Linked DNA regions of Homo sapiens. The protein of the gene in region 3 interacts with the protein of the main gene of each other region in a biochemical or structural test. Each region holds a gene or a part of one and is shown on either strand. Other genes may lie near its edges.

Region 1 (3,500 bases), on a different chromosome or scaffold from region 3:
GTAGCAATATCTTTACAACCACTATGGAAGTGGGCATTTTATAAACACATTAGTAACAAAATTCAGAGATTTAGTTTTATAGGCAAGAAAATCTTTTGACTCTAACTCTTACCCCCCACCATTACTGTATTTTTGAAGTGCATCAAAAGTTCCAGAGAATATATTTTATACTTAAATGTTTATTATGATTAAGCTTCCCAAAGCATTTTCACCTAAATTATCACAGCACATTCAACAAAGCCCTGTGAGTTTTTATCCCAAGGAACAAATGACAAAATAGGCAAAGATGCAAAGTCACAAGAGAAGGCAAGTGCCAAGCACGATTTAGATCCCAGAACTTGGCATCCTAAGGCAGTGGTCCCTCCAGGGTGCTGCAGTGTCTGTACCCAAAACCAACCCAAAGCAAGCAAAGAAACCTTGGTTCAGAAACCATTTTTGCCCCAAATGATGAACTAAGTGTTTGTTACATGCCTACTACTATCCTATGATTTGTGGATCAATTATTTTAAAAGATAGATTACCAGTATGGGGTGGGGCTGGGGAGAAGCATGGTCCTATGTGACCAGAGAGAAGGAGTGTGTGCCTGAGAGCAGGGGGAGAAGGTAGAAAATCATGTGTTTGCCTAAAAACAGTGTCCTGGCTCTTCCCAACGAACTTGAACTTGAGAAATGAGACATCCCTGAAGAACACACAGTCAAGTGCCAGAACCACACACAAAGCACTGCACCTGTGAGCCCCGGACTGCCACAAACACCTTGCCTTTTCACACAGTGATCCTGGAGTCTGTGCAGGTGCGTTTATGCTTCATGTGGGAAAAGCAAACGCCAGAATTACAGAAAAGCATCTGGCATCTGTATTATTTCGCAGTAGAAACAGCTAATGTGTGTTGTAATAGTGAATATACCACATACTCTGCTATGTATTTTAAGTCCATGGTCTCTTAATTCACCGTCGCAACAACCTGAAGACACAGGAATTATTGTTTCCCCTGTGTTATGACACTTAGTAGTAAAATAACCGTTCACTTAGAAAATGATGAAGTTGGGATATGAACTCAGTCAGTTGGGGTACAACTTTGAAGCTATTTTCTCAACCATTTGCTCCACTGCTGTATTTACTACTGGGACACACGAAATCAGCAAGCAGTAAAATGTTTCCTTAAAGAAGAACTCCTGTAGGACAAGTGAGTAAGTTTAACTTCAAGCTTTAGAATTATGCTCCCAAAATAGGAACCAATAAAATGATATATAAACTGTTAAGACATGACAGAGTGACATAATTACTATAGACAAACAATATAAATCAATTTTAAAAAAGGAAAATAGATAAATTGAGAAATGTGTATAAGATATAAAAAGATAATTCACAAAAAAATTAGACGTAGACACCAACAAATTAGAAAATATTTAACCTCAGGAATATTAATAGAGAAGCAAATGAATTAGAGAAAAACACAATATTTCTCCTATGTAATTAGAAGTTTTATTTTTCTCATTACAACACCCAGTGTTGTTGAAATCATGGGAAAATTTGTACACTCCTGCCTTGCTGAGAGAAATATAAATTATATAATCTTCCTGGAAGACAAATGAACAACATATATCAACAACCTTGAAAACATCCAGTTCTAGGAAGTAATCTAGAGTAAATAACCTGATGACAACTATTTAGTTATTAGGATCTTAATTACAGCATTAAATATAACTACCAAAAATGAAAATGTCATCAATCTCCAATAACAGAGTGATGTAAGTAAATAATGTTATATAAAGGTATGGAAAACAGACACTAAAAATAAATACTAATTACATGAGATGTTAATAGGTAACTAAACAGAATATGAGCAATGTTTTCTAAATTTAAAAATGTGTATCGCTTGATATCTCTGCTAAAAATATGGTCATTTCTGGGGCTTGCAACCATGCATGAATTTTAACTTCTTTTAATCATTTCTGTATTTTTGAATTTTCAATGAGCATGCACTACTTTTGAAAACAAACAAATCTCAAATTTAAAGGCGAGAAAATGTAAGTATGGCTGATCAAAATCTGTGTAATCTACATTCCATGATGAATGACCTTTGTTAACTTTAAGTCATGCATTCAGCTAATTAATGAACTTCACCCCAAAATAAATATATACTATTCTTTTCAAGAATGGAAAGGCATGCTTTTCTTCTGCATAATGTAATATATATATTAAACTATGATATATTTAGTGGAAAAGTAATATATAAAGAACAAAACTCTTGAAACCCTGACATAAACACTGTGTTCTCAGTGTTCTCACATTTGGGAGTGGGTATGTGTGCTGGGTATCACATTCAATATAGTTATTTGCCTTGATTATCTTCTTAGCTTTAGTATTATGAATAGTTCTCATATAATTAGCTACTCTGAAACTATAATTCATAATTGCATATTTCTTTGGCTAGAGGTGCCATAATATATCTATGCACCTGCTATGAATTTAACATTACTCTTTTTCAACCTGAGTTAAGCAACACAAATAATCTGATCCAGATGCTACAAGCCCCAGCCTTCCTGCATCAACCTTCCATGTCCTGGGTTAATGAGACAATTTGTACTATCTCTGAGACTTTTTATATAACACCTGTCTGTCTTTCTGGAGGATTCTTCTTCCTTATTTGGTTTCCCCATGACCCCAAGAACAATGCTCCACACCAGTGAAGACTGTGTTAGAGATGAGAGATTGAACTGTGGCTCTTTTACATTTGGAGCTACCAAAGAGGTTGCTCTTTCTGGAAATTACATTATTGTATACTGTTGAAGGTAATGACTGCTATATTAGTCTAATATTTGAAAGTCCAAATAAAATATGTGACAGAGGATAAAATTTGTTTTAAAAAGTGAGCATTTTTAGATTGAGTAGTCATGCTTAGACTTAAATACAACATCGTATCTATTTAGAAAAGCAATGTTTATCTTCTTTCTTTACTGTGTCCATGATTTCTCCTATTAATTGCAAAACATCAAACAGCCACCAAAATCTAATTATTTATACTGAGGCAGAAAAAGCTGTGGAAAATAGCTAGCCTAGATCACTTATATATGGTTTGGGAAGTCAGATTTTAACATCATCTTTTTTATGTCTAATTCTCACCACTTACAAAGCGATCCAATTATTGGCAGTTAAAGAATAACATGAAAAATAGGGGAAGAACGCCAAGGGTAAGTTATTTTAAAGTTGGCTATACATAAATCTGCTGAATTTCATGGACCATAGTTGCTACAAATCAACCAGGGCATTAGACGCTACCTTGATAACTCTTGATGTAGTGTCAAAATACCATGAAATATTTAAAGAGCTCAACTACCAAGCAAAGTACTGTGAAAGCTACTATATCCAGAATTCTATCAACTAGAATTCTTCATAAACCATGCCAATGGGGAACACTTCTTCTCTATTCTGATATTTCCTTTCAGGCAAAGGGAACTTAATTAATGTAACACTGCTGGCCTCTCTCCAGCTTTTCACTT
Region 2 (3,500 bases), on a different chromosome or scaffold from region 3:
GCGTTTCCTTGCTTTGCATTTCCTACTGGATTAATAAAGGGGTTTAGGTAGTACTTTAAGTTTCTCTCCTGACCATATATTAACTATTTGCACACCCATTATTACCTCTTTTTGACTTCACAACAAGCCTTCTGCAGTGAGTGTTGGCAACTGCATTTTAGAGATGGGGAAACTGAGGCTCCAAGATGAAGGGACCTCACTCAAGGTTACCCTACTAGTTGCTAATGGAGCTGGGACTAGAACCCAAGTCTTCCTGTCTCCAAGGCCTGGTATTTTTTTCTCTAGAGCTCTCCAACCCACAGGAGTCTCTTAGCCTCAGGACCTGGCCTGGCACTGAGCTAGGAGAGGCCAGGAGAGCCTTAGGTCTCTAGAGGATTTGAGCAGGAGGAGATGAGTCTGGGATGAGTGGGGAGTTGACAGCGGCAGGGAAGAAGGCTCTGTCTCCCTCCTTTCCACTCTCCCTCCTGGCCTGGCATCAGGAGGGCCTGTTGATGCAGTAGCCATTGCTGTCACTGCTGCTGCTGCAAGCGACTCCCCTGCTAGGTCTGTTCTGGGTTTGTAAGGAGTGGGTGAGAAGCCGCTGGAAGCGAGGGCAGGCAGGGTGGGAGTTTAGCAGCAGAGGCTGCAGCATTGGGGGAGGCTAGGTAGAGCGGGTACAGGCTGGGCTCTCTTGGTCCCCAGGCTCCCCCTGGTGGAGGAAGAGGGGAGAGTGGTGCCTGGGCCGAGCTGCAGCTTGTTGGGGGGGCCCCGCTGTGCCTAGGGACTTTCTTTAGTCCTCCCAATGATCCCGTGCTTCTGTCACCACGATCCACATTTTACAGCAGAAGAAACTGGGGGATCAGAGAAGTGAAGCCCACCAGAGCTTACATTACTCATAAGACAGACTCCCAATCCTGTGAACTTTCCCTCTACTGCATTGGACATCAGCTGTCATGTCCACCCCCATCCATGTCATCCACCCAGGATTCCCATATCCTCCTGCACCGTCCCCTCTGGACAGGTTCCAGGATGCCAGTATCCCTTCTGCTGTGCTCAGGGTGTGGCCTTTCTAGTGCAGATAGAGTGAGATGCGTCCCTGTCTCCTTTTGGTCCTGGGTCCTCTGTACGCGAAGGTTTTGTTTGCTTGCTTTTTAGTCGTTGGTCCTGACTAATGCTCAGGTCTTTTTACCTGGAATTGTCCACATACCCCCCCAAGCCTGGTTGATTAGAGAATAGCTCTGCTTTTGTTGTTGATCTTGGCTTGGCCCCCTTGCAGTCCTGCCACCTAGAGTGATATATAGGAGTGCTAGGGGCCCCTGCTGAGTTGCTCCACGCTGAAGAGCTGCGTTTCCCACGCTCTTTGCATGGGCCCAGCTCCGGCTCTGCTGTAGGCGGTGGTGGGCTGAAGCTGGTATGGTGGCAACTCTCCTTCCTTTACCCCCACCCCCATCCACCCTGCAAGCTGGCTTACACTTGGAGATAGCAACTAGAGGGGCTGGCCTGGTGGTGTTTTTTTTCTTTTTCTTTTTTTTTTTTTTTTGGTTTTGGTTTGTTTTTGGGACAGGGGTCTTGCTCTGCTGCTCAGGCTGGAGTGCAGTGTTGCGAACATAGCTTACTCAAGTGAGTTCAGGAGTTTGAGGCTGCAGTGAGCAATAATTGCAAAAAAGGAACACCAGGCTGGCCCTTCTAGTTGCTATCCGCCCAATTCTTTTAAGCAGAGACGGGGTCTCTCTGTGTTGCCCAGACTGGTCTCAAACTCCTGGGCTCAAGCGGTCCTCCCTCCTTGGCGTCCCAAAGTGCTGAGCCACCACGCCCGGCCCAACGTGGTATTCTTGACAGCTAGGGCAGTGTATGGTCTACCACATGCTGTCGTCTGCTTGCAGTGGGATGTCAGCATGCTCCCCGCAGGGGCTAAGGCCACTGAGAGACAGCACGTGAGACAGTGAGCCCAGGGAGAGGCTCAGGGAAGTCTCTCCTTTGGGGTCTTGGGTACTTTTCCCAGGGGGTGTCTCTCCTTCCCAGGAGGGAAAACCATTTATCTTCCCTCCCACTGTGTTGTGAGCATTATCTTCGTGTGGGAGGAAATGGTAATGTTGAATTTAATGAGAATGAGAGTCTTGCTTCTCTATCTAGATCTGGGGCAAGAATGGGGTTGTTATCATCTACAAACATTTCTTGGCTGTGTGCACAGCGCAGGAGGGGCCACGAGGCTGAGCAAACACTGCACTCTTAGCGCTTGCAGAACCCCTGCTCCCCTCCATCCAGGGAGACAGGGTTGCAGGCCTAGCCATGCCATAGAGGCAACACTCAGGACAAAATGAGTGGCAAGAATGGTGAGGAGTGGAAGTTCTCAGAGGAAGGAGGGATCAGGCCAGGCCAGGCTGCTGTTTGAGTACCTGGGCGGTGGGTGAGGGATGAGGGGTATGGAAGGAATGTGAGTGGTCCCTTCATGGAGGTGGCAGCTGGGAGGAAGACGTCAGACCAGACTTGCTGCCTGCCCTTTCCTCATCTGTCCCACCCCTGCCTACCAAGGTCTCTGAATTTGCTGGGCGCAGAGTAAAGGCCTGGAGCATGGGGAAGAGGCCACACGTGTACCGAGTGAGTCTCAGCCTTCTGCCAGGCCCCACGCTATGTGACTTTATGTAATAATAGCTAACATTTTTTCACTGCTCTTACTGTGTGCTAAGCACTATTTGTTCTAAGCGCTTTCCATGTATTAATTCATTCAATCTCCACATGAATCCTCTCGTGTAGATATTGTTATTAACTCCATTTTACAGATGAGGAAACTGAGGCCCAGAAAGGTTGGATAGCATACCCAGGATCACTCAATGAATAAGTGGCAGAACTGTGAAGGAGCTGGAGGAGCCCAGGGAGTTGGGCTTCAGGGTCCGCAGTGTTCTAACCCACCCTGGAGCACTACTTCTTACCTCATTTGCACAGAGCCCCTGTCAGATGGGTGTGTTCGTTTGTTTGTTTGTTTTATGAGTTTCACTCTTGTTGCCCAGACTGAAGTGCAATGGCACACTCTTGACTCACTGCAACCTCCACCTCCTGGGCTCAAGCAATTCTCATGCCTCAGCTTCCCGAGTAGCTGGGATTACAAACACGTGCCACCACCCCCGACTAATTTTTGTATTTTTAGTAGAGACGGGGTTTCACCATGTTGGTCAGGCTGGTCTCGAACTCCTGACCTCAGGTGATCCGCCCACCTCTGCCTCCCAAAGTGCTGGGATTACAGGCATGAGCCACTGCGCCCAGCCTATTATCTTCATTTTTTCAGACAAGGAAACAAGGATCAGAGAGGTACAGTGACCTGCCCGAGGTTATTCAGGCAGATGGAGCCCAGAACTGTCTGGCTTCCAAACCTATGGTACACCGCTGCCTCCCGCAGGTGGGCTTTAAAGACATCAGAGCTACTCCAGGTATGTGGCTCTAGCTTCCTCCAACAGAGCTCCCAGGACCCCTGCTCTAGGCAGGCTCCCTCTCACCATCACCCCCTGAATTTTGGCCATGGTCTC
Region 3 (3,500 bases):
GGGTTTCTGGTCTCTGTTCCCTGTTTTTATGAGTTCTTTATATATTGGGAATATTAGCCCTTTTCTTGCAAATTTTTTCTGTCAGTTGTCTTTTGACATTGTTAATGGTGTTTTCCAATAGTTTTTGGAAAAAGTCTTTGGCCATAAAAAAAGTTTTTTAAAAATTTTAAGTGGTTAGATTTATTGATCTTTCTTTTTTTTTCTTTTTTTAAGAGCCAGGGTCTTGTTCTGTTGCCCAGGCTGGAGTTCAGTGGCATGCTCATAGCTCACTGCAGCCTCAAACTCCCAGGCTTCAGTGATTCTCTCAACTCAGCCTTCTCAGTAGCTAGGACTGTAAGGGTGCACTGCCACACCCGGCCCTTATCTCCTTTTAATATATGCTGGAGAGCTAGGCCTAAACAAAAGGTCTATCTCTAGCAAATGACCTGAAAATAACTTCTCTTACATTCATGTTATCATTTCTATTTTCACTTTCTTTGTTTACCTTATTTACCTGTTTTATCTTGTATGCACTTTCCTAAGCCATGGAAAATTAATTATTTAGGTAAGCAAATTCATCACATTAACAAAACTAATTAGTGCTGTATCTATCCTACCAGTCTTGCATACTGTCAAAGGCATATCTGATTAGAAGCTATATTCTGGGATTAGTCTGATGCTTACCTTTTCTGCTACTTCTCGTACAGACTGAACACTTGTTCCATATAGATGATTGTTATACTGGCCAGCTTCAATGAATTTATGTTCCTGGATATCTTTTTCCATCTGCTCTCTTGAAGTCACAAAATGATAATCTCTTCCATCTACCTCATAATCTCGTTTTGGTCTAGTTGTATCTTTAACAGAAAAAAACTTGGGAAAGTGTTTAATATTAAAAAAAAAACCACAATAAATCCATTTTCTACTTACATCGTTTTGTAAAGTTCAACAGAACAGATTAATTTAAATCTGAGAAAGGACAATAATATGGAGGATGGAAGAGTAACTGATAAAATAAGTACAAACCATTAAAAAATGGTTATATCTATTTTTCCCACACACAGTGACAGGAAATGTTAAGAGTAACAATTAAATGTTTTTGTTTGGTTTACTTACGAGGAACACAGGATCCAAATTTGTCAGGAAATTCTGAGATCAAGTCATCATTTATCCTGTCTTTCATAGGTCCCAATATGATCACTGGTCGAGTATAATTAACTATAAAGATAAACTGCATGTTAAAAGGAATAAACATTCAACAAATATCAATGTATTTTATTTCACCAGCGAACAAAAATATCCTTAACTGTTATGACTAATTTTTTTCTTCCCTCTCCATCTCACTCTACCATCAACCAAAGATGCGTAACTTGCTCTTTTATAATCTTGACTCAGATCTTAAACTTTACTTAGTCTTCTGCTAGAAGTCATATTGATAATTCAATCAAGTTAAATTTGGTGTTTTCGCAGATAATGTTTCTTTACATTGCAAATGACAGAATAAAGTCTAGTGTTTTACAGATGGCTTTGAAGTAGAAATTGTAAGGAAGCAGAGCAAAGAAGGGCAGAACAGAAACTGGATGTAGGAAGTGATATAATCCCAGTAGTAGCATTCTAGAAAGATGATCTAACAGAAGTGTAAACTCTGGGTGGTCTGGGATCATGCTGGAATAATGGAGATTGGTAGTGAGACTGAGAACTAACATTGTGATAGAAGGGATGAAAAGAAGGTCATAAATAAGAAAGAAGTGGGATAAACAGTGCCTGGAACCTAACTGGATGAGGAGGAGGAGGAGGAACAGAGAAGGCTCAAAGATACTTCCAAGATTTTCAAAAAAGGGTTATTTGGAAGATAGTGATGCTAACAAGAACACTGGAACAAAGTTGCTTGGGAAATAAAACACAAATATAAAAGTCAGTATGAAATGACTAGATTCTAATATTCTGTGGAGTAAACTATGTTTCATAAAACACATGTAGTAAATTTCTACATGTATATGTAGTAAAAAAAAATTTTAATACAACATTTTTTGGGGTATGAGAATTTTTTTCCCCCAAATTAAAAAGTATATTCTTCTAGAAGGTTATAAAACATCAATAGGCTTCACAAACCTTCTTGTTGATTCACTGGTTCATAAGATAAGACGTATTCTTCTTGACCACCTATTAGAAAGTGAAGGCACAGATGAAAAATGTGTAAAGATAATTGATGCTAATCTAATTCTTCATAAACAACATATACATTACTAGAACTTTCCTGAGAAAATGGCAAAGATATGGAAAGAGGTACTTTATGGCAAGATTTAGTTAAAAAAAAGTGTCAAATTATAAAGTCTTAAAAGTGAGTTTGCTAAATGTAAAACAAAATACAAATGGGCTATATAATCAATATTATATTTTATAGATAATCAAATCTAAAAATCTTCATTTGTGATGCTATGTGCTACTCCTTTATTTAGAATCTAAGAATTATTAAATCTGTTAAAGATTAATGCTTTAATGAGCAGATCTGTCTATCATCTATCTACGTATTAGGTAATTTGTTACTATTAAAAACATGCTACTTTTTTTGTTCCACCAACTACAATACTGAATACAGTATATTTTATTTTTAAAATAATTACATCTTAAAATTAAAAATTATAAATGCAAAGGTAAAACTACTGTTACTATTTCACTGATGAAAAATTCACTAACTCAACTTTGTAAAAAAATAATAAATTTAATGTGAGTCAAAAAGAGCTTTAGATAAAACTAAATCCTTCCAAGAAAATAAACAACAGTGATAGTAAAGGAGATAAATATATTTGCTTTGACCTTAAAAACACAAGAAGTTAAAGCTTCTAAAGGTTAAATTAAAGGTTCGGAGCTTAGGAAATACTCTAAATAAAAGAGTCTACAAATTATATCTGAATATCTGAATCCAGTGAAAAGAAATAAATAGTTAAAAACTCTGAGAGTTTTTTTTTTTTTTTTTTTTTTTGAGACGGAGTTTCGCTCTTGTTGCCTAGTCTGGAGTGCAATGGCATGATCTCAGCTCACTGCAGCCTCCAACTCCCGGGTTCAAGCGGTTCTCCTGCCTCAGCCTCCCAAGTAGCTGGGATTACAGGCATGTGCCATCATGCCCAGCTAATTTTGTATTTTTAGTAAAGATAGGGTTTCTCCACGTTGGTCAGGCTGGTCTCGAACTCCTGACCTCAGGTGATCTGCCCGCCTCGGCCTCCCAAAGTGCTGGGATTACAGGCGTGAGCCGCCGCGCCCGGCCAAAAACTCTAGGAGTTTTAAACTAACACACACACATCCCCCCTCACCCCCACGCCTAAAATTAGAAAAGACTGTGTTAACCCAAGTGGTTCAATGAAAGCAATCAATATTGGATAATGTATTTGAAGACTTTCTCTTTAATTATCAAGATCCTATAACAATTTTACCATGAATTTTGCAATTGGTTTATATTATATGTATGTAGCTGTAGGTCTTTTAAATCCATACATTGGCATAAACATTCTTTTCTGTTTTAG
Region 4 (2,520 bases), on a different chromosome or scaffold from region 3:
TGTTTAAGATTCCAAGAATTTTATCACAATACAACACAGTTTAATGTTCTCTCTCATATTACTTTGAAATATGTAGGCATAAAGACATACTTTTAACTGAAAGATAATACAAATGTGTTAAAGAACAAACTGTCATAACAGTGTTCAGTGTATTGCCAAAGTGTTTGAGAATTACAGTAGTAAAGATGTCCCGTTGCCAGTAAAAACAGACACCAAGATGTCTTGAAACAGATAGATAGGAAGTATATATTGCTTTCCTGCATGCTTTCTTTCTATTTGAGGCAAAAAGACTAAATTTGGCCCTTGAGTATTGTGGAATTTCTAGCAGCTGTCACCCTTATTCTGAAATTATAAAACGAAATTAAATAAGCATTTTGTAGTGTTAATATAAAATATGCTTTTCACTATTCCCTCTAGGGTAACAAAGATTAAAAGCAACAGAGATAGCTGTCATCAGGCTGTTCTCTACTTATCCATTGACTCATTTAGTGCAAAACACATTCTATTAATAGTCTTTATTCCATATGGAAAAGTACAGTAGTTGTGCAGAAACAAAACTAACAAAGGAGTAAGACTTTCACAAATATTAAAGAAAATAAATAAGCCATAGTAGTTACAGCAAAACTCATGGAAAGCCTATAAAAATGATAAAGCTGTTCATACAAAGTACAATTGTACACACAGGAACAAACGTTGAAGAATGACATCAGAGGTTCCTATTTGTACAAAACCATAATGATGTTCACAGGAACTTCATTACAACAATTCACTTTAAAACATTCTGCAAATATATAACTTCCTTCTCCTCAATTTTAGAAAATAAATTTCACATCCCAACATATAAAACAGATACACTCCTACTTCTCTCAAATTAGCATTTTAACATCTTCCAATAACACACCATTTTCATATAAAAATACCTTTAAACCAAGGTTCATTCCTGTACCTTATCTTTACAAATGAATAATACATCAGAGCTTGGACTTAAGTAGCACCTCAAAGGTGTTCATATAAATGAGATAAAGTGCTGTTACTGGTATACTGTTAACATGCCCTAATAATATATCATTCAGTGCAATAACCAGCATGGATGAAGCTTACAGAGAACATGCAAATCGTGACTGGGGTTTTCTTTTTTGTTTTTAGATTAACTACATTGAAATAGTTCTATTTACAAGTCTGAATAAAACTGGGCTATTTAATATATACAACATGTGACTATAAAGTACTAATTGTACAACAAAACAAAAGTAACAACCAGTCTTACCTTTAGTATCTGAATTAAATATTGTCCTTAGAGGAGCTTGGAAGGATTGTTCCAGGAGCACTACCATTGTTAAAAGCAGTTTGGAAACCAGGTGAGAGCTAATTTATAAGCGCCACTAAGAATGCTGGTCTTAGTATTTTAGCTTGAATCCACTTGACCACCAATCATGACTCCAAATGGCTTATACTGTTTCCAAATATCAAAAACACCTTCAAGCACAAATATAGGTTCCAAAAGTGCTATAAAAATATATGAATAAGAACCATAACACAGAAATAAGTGTTTAATCCCTTTATAGGAACTGCTATGAAGAGAATACTTAGGTGTTCTCATATTCTGCTTAAAAAAATTGGCTGCGTTTACAGTCGCACTTATATTTAGCTAGAACTCACTCAGAACTTAATTTTTATGTATATATAAAATGGGATTTGACTCAATGGAACTGTAACTGTAAAATTCCATCGTTTCCAGAATACATCACTTGGATGTACATCACTTGGTCATGAGTTAAACCTGTTACTCTTGAACAATAGACATATTTATTCTCTAAGTAAGTTCTGTGATTCTACCATATAGCAAAGGCAAGGAAGAAAGTGGCAAAAGCCAAACAATTTCATAAGTGAGAGTCATTAATGTCTTCTGGGCTGTCTTAAAATTTTAAGTTGATATAATTTTCAATTCTGTTTAGCATTCTTATTTATGGTGATTTCTAGCTATTAAAGAAGTTTTATCCCACATTTTAGATATATCAATGGCATCAGATCCACCCCAAAGAAAAAAAATGGCTAAAAAATAATTTTTCTGATGAAAAAAACTATTTAATTTACCACCAGGAGTCAACACACGTTTCCAAATTCCACAAATGGGGATTTCTTAAGGTTCACACATTTGACTCTATAAATGATCGCTTTGGTTTGGCTGCAGTGAGGTGGCTCCTGTGGGCTTCATTACTAATATGAGGCTGCTGTTTGGAGATACTTTCCTGGTACAGATGAGAAACAGTCTTAGTTATCCTGTTCTCTTGAGAGTGGACTGGAATTTGGCACTTGCTTTCTTCTAGCTCCTTCACTTGTGCCCCATTGTGGACACTTGCACTCAGGGTAGAAACAGAACAGGTTTTGGCTTGGTTATTATATCCTCCCACTTGCATGAGAGAGGGCTTCTCAGTGTTAGCAGACTGCAGGCCAGCTGCAGAAGACGTGTTTGTCAGCAGCCCCTCTGGTGCCGGACAGTGCCAGCTGCGGCTTGGAGGA

The links. Proteins that work in one complex are often made in the same cells at the same time.
Region 1: the proteins of DLG1 (region 3) and CTNND2 interact in a test that uses a peptide from one of them, tested with the Homo sapiens proteins (2 studies listed by IntAct, with this or other methods).
Region 2: the proteins of DLG1 (region 3) and IQSEC2 interact in a test that uses a peptide from one of them, tested with the Homo sapiens proteins (2 studies listed by IntAct, with this or other methods).
Region 4: the proteins of DLG1 (region 3) and TANC1 interact in a test that uses a peptide from one of them, tested with the Homo sapiens proteins (2 studies listed by IntAct, with this or other methods).

What each region holds. Positions count from the first base shown.
Region 1 is NC_000005.10:11,894,447-11,897,946, forward strand, and holds part of CTNND2 (catenin delta-2), read right to left. Parts: intron 1-3,500. UniProt on the Homo sapiens protein: Has a critical role in neuronal development, particularly in the formation and/or maintenance of dendritic spines and synapses. Involved in the regulation of Wnt signaling.
Region 2 is NC_000023.11:53,314,851-53,318,350, reverse strand, and holds part of IQSEC2 (IQ motif and SEC7 domain-containing protein 2), read left to right. Parts: intron 1-3,500. UniProt on the Homo sapiens protein: Is a guanine nucleotide exchange factor for the ARF GTP-binding proteins.
Region 3 is NC_000003.12:197,064,613-197,068,112, forward strand, and holds part of DLG1 (disks large homolog 1), read right to left. Parts: intron 2,143-3,500; coding exon 2,092-2,142; intron 1,198-2,091; coding exon 1,096-1,197; intron 853-1,095; coding exon of another isoform or gene 839-852; exon of another isoform or gene 837-838; coding exon 664-836; intron 1-663. UniProt on the Homo sapiens protein: Essential multidomain scaffolding protein required for normal development. Recruits channels, receptors and signaling molecules to discrete plasma membrane domains in polarized cells.
Region 4 is NC_000002.12:159,230,640-159,233,159, reverse strand, and holds the end of TANC1 (protein TANC1), read right to left. Parts: coding exon 2,148-2,520; 3' UTR 501-2,147; downstream 1-500. UniProt on the Homo sapiens protein: May be a scaffold component in the postsynaptic density.